Regions from separate parts of the Homo sapiens genome. Here region 1 is reported to be linked to region 2. The links are microRNA targets in miRTarBase. Many come from high-throughput screens and were not tested one by one. Region 2 holds a microRNA gene; the other region holds the end of a gene's coding sequence.
Evidence for each region. The annotated mature microRNA hsa-miR-4666a-5p reads AUACAUGUCAGAUUGUAUGCC and lies in region 2 at 1,298-1,318, shown strand. An mRNA with a match to its seed (bases 2 to 7 or 8) in the 3' UTR can be bound and repressed. Matches are read on the target gene's strand: a 7mer-m8 pairs with bases 2 to 8, a 7mer-A1 pairs with bases 2 to 7 and ends in A, and an 8mer does both.

Region 1 (3,000 bases), not on the chromosome of region 2:
AATAGACTGAAATGCTGTGACTTTTTTTGTCAATAAAGATATGGGGGAAAAAGAACCATCCTATGAAATGGAGTCATTTGGTATAATAACTTTTGCCTCTTTCTCTTTCTTCAGGAATGGCTGGAACAATATATTTCCTGGCTGACCTGCTAGTCCCCACAAAAGCCAGGTTCCCTGCATTTGAACTCTGAAAGGATAGCATGCCACCTGCAACTCACTGCATGACCCTTTCTGTATATTCAAACCCAAGCTAAGTGCTTCCGTTGCTTTCCAAGGAAACAAAGAGTCAAACTGTGGACTTGATTTTGTTAGCTTTTTTCAGAATTTATCTTTCATTCAGTTCCCTTCCATTATCATTTACTTTTACTTAGAAGTATCCAAGGAAGTCTTTTAACTTTAATTTCCATTTCTTCCTAAAGGGAGAGTGAGTGATATGTACAGTGTTTTGAGATTGTATACATATATTCCAGAACTTGGAGGAAATCTTATTTAAGTTTATGAATATAACCATCTGTTACTGTTCTAAAAATGTTTAAAAGAAACTCAATACAGATAAAGATAAATATGTGACTATTATTGGGTATTACACTTCACTTCTCTTTAATATTTTTCCTCCAACTGGAGGGCAGACAATTTTCTGACTTGCTTTTCTCTAGGTGGTTCATTTTGAAAGGGGACAGAAATATAACTAAATGCTTCCAGGAGAAAAATTCCAAGAGTTACAATCTGGACTTGGTACCTAAATATCATTTTTTAAATTCTTGATGCCTATTTGGACTAGAGGTAAACATACTTTCAGATTGGCCTGTTTTTGTCGGTAAGGCATACAGCCTTCAGAAGCCAACATTTTTAATCAAAAACTTATAAAACATGATGATCATTGTGAAAATTCTGAGTTGAAGGTTAGTTTAAGATAAGCTAACAATAACAGTCTGTGTTTTCTCTAAAATAATCTGAGTTTTTTGGAACTCTTTATTTAAATATGTGTGTTTTTCAGTATTCAAATAAGATCAGGAAGCCAATTTTCTATGTATGAATATGCTTTAACCTAGGATTTCAGTCCACTCTGACTGACTTTCTAAACTTTAACTTGGGTTTTTACAGTGACTATGCATTAGTGCTGACTCTTTGGTATAAGCCATAAAATATTTTCCTTCCTATCAATTTATCTGAACTTTGGTCTTTTCACTAAATTGTACAGTATTCTACTTCTGTTTAAAAAGGGGAGATGAGAAAGGGAATACTATCTAACCAATAACTTGAACAAAAACACTAAACTAAGCATTTAATAGAAATGCTTTTTATTGAGGAGGTATTATCCAGAGTTCATGCTTAGAACAAATGCATCTTTGCGTATCCTAGACTTAACAATTCATCAGTTTCTGAGACCACAGAATCAGGTTTTCCGTAGTAGATAAAGACTCTCTGGTGCTTCAAATTCTGTTCAAGTGTTTTGACTCATCAGCTTCTACTCTTTCTATTACTGCCTTTGCCTGGCTTGTTTTGTCTCTTTGCAACTGATTTTGCAAAAAAAAATTGTAGCTTTAAAATAACAGGGTCTAAGTATTTTAAATGTGCCTATTTCACAGCTCTCTTGGTCACAAAAACATGCTATTTTTATTGGAACTTCAAACCAAATCCCCACTGAGTGTGTACTGGTTCCTGCAGGTAGCAGTCTCCTATTATCTCCTGTTTAGCACCAAAAGAGCTAATATTATTGGAAACTGACCTTTTAAAGGCCACTGGCAGTAGGATTTAAAAAGCAGCCCACTGCTCAGTTTCCAGGATCAGCTTCCTCCTTCTGTCACTTGTGTAAGTTGGCACTACCTTGTGCCTCTCAGATTGCTGAAGTGCTGCTGGTAAGCATGTGCATGCTCTGCCTTTCTTGTGAAAGTTTTCAATCAGCGATATCAGCACTTACAGTAAGAAGTAAAAGTAGTGCACAGCAAAGCTAATTTGCCTTTGCCTGGGGTGTTCAGCTTGAAAGAATAAAGCTCATTTGGTTTAGTTAAATGTCTTACTCTACTGTGCCTATGCTTTTAGCTGCGTTACTAAGCAAGGGAAAAATAACAGTTTCTCTGAGCCAGAGAAGACTTGATCACAGTTCTCCAAGCATCGTGATAGCAATGCTTAACCCCAGGAAGATTTCAAGGCAGGGAGAAGAACATTTCAAATAAGATTCTTGTTAACCCATTTATGCCTAGTGTTCCATTATTGGAATGCTAAGCTTGTGGGAGTCATTTACATCCTACTGCTCAAAGTCATTGCCAAGGTCTGATTTTTCACACAAAAAATTGCAACCCCCAGCATAAATGGGTTAGCTACTGTCATCAGTTAGCAAATTCATCCACACAAACACAATTAGAGTTTGGTTTTTTTTTAAGCTTTTCAAAACTTACTAAACTGGCACAATTTTATATGTATGCTATTTGTTGTATTTATGCTTAAGAGCAAAAAAGTTTTGATGGGATTTTAAATTCAGGCAAAGCCTACAACGCTGAGACAATCCCCTAACAACATGGTAGTAACTAAAGAAACTTTTATACTAGGCTTCTTAGTTTTAAAAGGAAGTGGCATCATTGTTTCAGTTCTAGTTTGTATTTTTCTCTCAGATATTTTTCTTCTTTAAAAATCTTTCCCAGAAGTTGGTTCCTAGAAAACTCAATACCATCATCTCTTATCTCTATACAGGGACTAGGTAATAAAACCTTCAAAGGTTGTCAAAGGTCATCAAGCAGTGTTCATTTATCCTGTCACATGTTTCTGTTTCTATAGTAATTTAGAAATTGCAAATAGTTAACTTTTCATCATGTAAAAAGTTAACATTATCCTATTTCCATAGATACCATGGACGGCGGTGTGGCCTGAGTTGTCAGTCTTTAATCCTGAGTCATGTGGCTCTCTTTTCATCTTTGATGTCAGTTCCAATTATTTGGCATCAAAAACCTTCATGGTAGGTAGAGTTTTAGGTAAAAGTGGATCTAGGGTTACTTTCTTTAT
Region 2 (3,538 bases):
TCTCTGCAAAAAAGTCTACATTGAAATTTAAGCATACCTCTGGGTAGTCTCTCACTGTTAAGAAAAATCATCTCGACAGTACACAATTGTTCAAAACATAAATAATTTGATGTTATCAAACAGATAAACTTTTAGTGAAACTGACTCTTAATGAGCTGGATGGTGCACCCACTCTCTTCTCTCCTCTCCTTTCCACCTCAATGACTGCACACATGCAGTGTTCATATTGTTACAGTGTTAGCACAGCATGGGATCATTTCCATATGGTTACAATGCTAGCAGTGCACGGGGTCATTTCCATTCTGTTTTGTTTTGATATATGCTCCAAAAAAAATTTACAAAAAATACACAGGAATGACAATTTTGTCATAGGCACTTTATTCAATTCTTTGCATCCCTAGTTATAATCCAAATATTAAACAGTGATCCATCATCAAAAGTAAGTGGGACTTGTCAACACCCTTAGTACTGTCAAGAAATATAGGATTTGTATGAAAAGCTGTTGAATCCAGTCCTCTCCACTATGAAACAGGTGCCCAATGACTGGAACATCCAAGCCCTCGGCCTCCTACCAGCATGGATTGGAAGTCAATACCTTAAACATTTGCAGCTGTGAAACTACTCTCACAGACCCATATAGTTCTCCACCTTAATGAACTTAAAACATAGGTTTAATAAAGTGAAACCAGTCTCCAGTAGAGAGAGTGAATGATTGTGTTAGCACAAGGCAACAACACTGGTTAGTGCCAGAGATCAAATCAAGGCACAAGATGAACATTTCATGACATTTTCCAAGTGTAATTCTCTAAGAAGGCATTTTGTGATGGATAATGTCAAACGTCAGTCAATTCATGTCTCAGTCCTTCTGATTCCCCTGGCACAAACTTGAAGTAGAAACAGGCTGTCTTTTCCTGCTACATTAGCACCCCCAGGCCCAGAATGAATGGGATTTGTCCGTCTCTCCTAGGACAGGGATCTGTTAAGGGAGAGGCAAAGAAGGTAAAACAGGATCCTTGCTACTAAGATTTTATAATGGAGAAAATTCAGAGCAATCGTGTCCAGAACCCATTTCTCTAATTATAGTGTTACAACAGAGAAAGACAAATGTTAATGATAAATGAAGGCAGTGCACATCAAATATGTGAGAATCCACAGAGACTAAGGGAATTAGGACTCACTCAACAAAATGGAAGCATTTTCTGGGTTGGAGAGACATGCCAAGATTCTTAAACTAAGCCAAATTTTTAAACTAAGCTTCATCTCACCTATCTGAGATGGGTGAGTGACAATCACTTAAATACATGTCAGATTGTATGCCTACAAAATCCCTCCAGACTGGCATACAATCTGACATGTATTTAAGAGATTGCCCCTCACCCATCTCAGATGGAAATTTCAAGTCAGATTTGCTAATTATTATGCAGTAAATAAAATAATTTGGAAGGAATCATCTCCAATTAAACCAACTTTGATTAAAAAACAAAAAATAACAAATGTTGGTGAGAACGCAGGGAAAGGGGATGCTTGTACACTGCTGGTAAGAATGTAAATCAGTACAGCCACTATAGAGACAAATATGGGCATTCTTTAAAAAACTAAAAACAGACTTACCATATGATCCAGCAACCCCATTGCTGGGTATATATCCAAAAGAAAGGAAATCAGTATATCAAAGAGATGTCTGCGGTCTCATGTTCATTGCAGCACTATTTATAATAGCCAAGATAGAAAGTCAACCTTAGTGCCCATCAGTAGATATATGGATAAAGAATATGTGGTACATTTACACATTCGAATACTATTTGGCCATTAAAAAAAATGAAATCCCGTCATCAGCAACATGGATGGAACTGGAGGACATTATGTTAAGTAAAACAAATCAGGCACAGAAAGACAAATACTGCATGATCTCACTCATACGTGGGAGCTAAGAACATGCATCTCATGGAGGTAGAAAGTTGATTGCTGGTTACCAGAAGCTGGGAAGAGTGGTGGGGAAAGGAGGAGATGAAGTTGATTAATGGGTACAAAAATATGCTTAGAAGAAATGGTAACATCTAGTATTGGTTAGAAAAGTAGGGTGACTGTAGTTAACAATAATTAGTTGTATTGCTGGAGGAGAGGAATTGGAATGATCTCGACCTAAAGAGGGTGTGAATATGATGACGGATGTCCCAGTTGCCCTGGTTTGATTGTTAAGCCTATGCGTATATCAAAATATTTGTACCCCCCAAATATGTACAACTATTACGTACTACTAATAAAAAAGCATATTGCTCTGAAAAAGTGCTCTAAAAAATAAAGCCTATTTACAAAAAGAATTTGGAGGAAAGAAAACTCCCTTTAAGAAGAAACTAACCCAAGAAAATGGATTTACTTTATGAGGCCAGAGAGGTTAAATGTTGATAAATGCGTGGCTGTCATTGTGTTGGGAGTGTGCAGTGGGAACTGAGCCTGGGTAGAGTGCATCTTCTACCAGTGGGAACTGAGCCTGGAAACCGAATTCTAATTCCAGGCAACGTTTTTGCTTAGAGGGTGGGTAGCTCTCAGGTATTCGTGGTTGGGGTGTCACCGGTATGGGGTATTTTTAGGGGGAGGACAGCCTGGGCCCCAGTCAGGCCTGCATGCCTTAGTTTTTAATGTGTCATCCAGAGATCATACTTATTTTTCCTATGATTTGCTGGAGTTTTTTTTAAAAAGCACTATATTTGCATTATTCAAAATAATCTTTCACTGTGTAATATGCGTACACACACACACACACACATTTTGGGGGTAAAATACGAGAATCCCTTAATTGGGGAAATTTTAGCTGAGTGATAAGGAGATCTGTGAGCCTGCTGTTTTGATGTTTCAAGCAGGAAGGCGTGGCATAAAGAGCTGCTTAGGCGCAACGCTGCTGAAATGGTTTTGGCTAGAAGCTCACAGTGTCTAGTTGTGGCTAAGGAGGGAGGAAAGGGGCGGGAGAAGAACGGACCCAAGCGCCTCCGCCCAGACGGCGCGATAACCCCCTCACCTCCAACCCCGGACCTCAGTGAGCACGTCCTCCAGTCTCAGCCGCCAGGAGGCACTGGGGGCGGGGACGTGGCACAAGATCTTCCCGGAGGTGACCCACGCTCCTCGCGCGCAGGGCGTAAGCCACACACAGATCTTTGGATGGGATCCATGGCGCAATCGCCTGTACTGCCCCCTCTCTGACTTTGCCTGTGGCCAACACAAGACGAACGCAGCCTTTCTAAGGGAAATATGCCGTTACAAACAAGAAGCCTAATTTTGTCTCTAAGACTTGCGCCCCCACGGCTCAGTCTACTTTCCCTCATTACTCCAATTGAATCACAGGTCACAACCAGACCAGGTGGCACGCTCCTTTTGGAGCTTGGAGGTGGCTCTGAAAAGAGCCTTTGGGTTCGGGGCGCCGGGACGCACCTCACTTGGAGCTGGTGTACTTGGTGACAGCCTTAGTGCCCTCGGACACGGCGTGCTTGGCCAGCTCGCCGGGCAGCAGCAGGCGCACGGCCGTCTGCACTTCGCGGGACGT

Region 1: the mRNA of LANCL1 is a reported target of hsa-miR-4666a-5p. Seed matches in the 3' UTR shown: 7mer-A1 at 2,809-2,815.

Annotation. Positions count from the first base shown.
Region 1 is chr2:210,431,678-210,434,677 of GRCh38, reverse strand. It overlaps LANCL1 (LanC like glutathione S-transferase 1), which reads left to right. Exons shown (of 10, transcript NM_006055.3): 10 at 115-3,000. The coding sequence ends at 191. The region is part of intron 2 of LANCL1-AS1 (LANCL1 antisense RNA 1); the gene reads right to left. Among named protein-coding and RNA genes, the nearest start is that of LANCL1, 44 kb to the left of the region's middle.
Region 2 is chr1:228,460,786-228,464,323 of GRCh38, forward strand. It overlaps MIR4666A (microRNA 4666a), which reads left to right and starts at 1,289; the gene lies at 1,289-1,367. It also overlaps the pseudogene H2BC27P.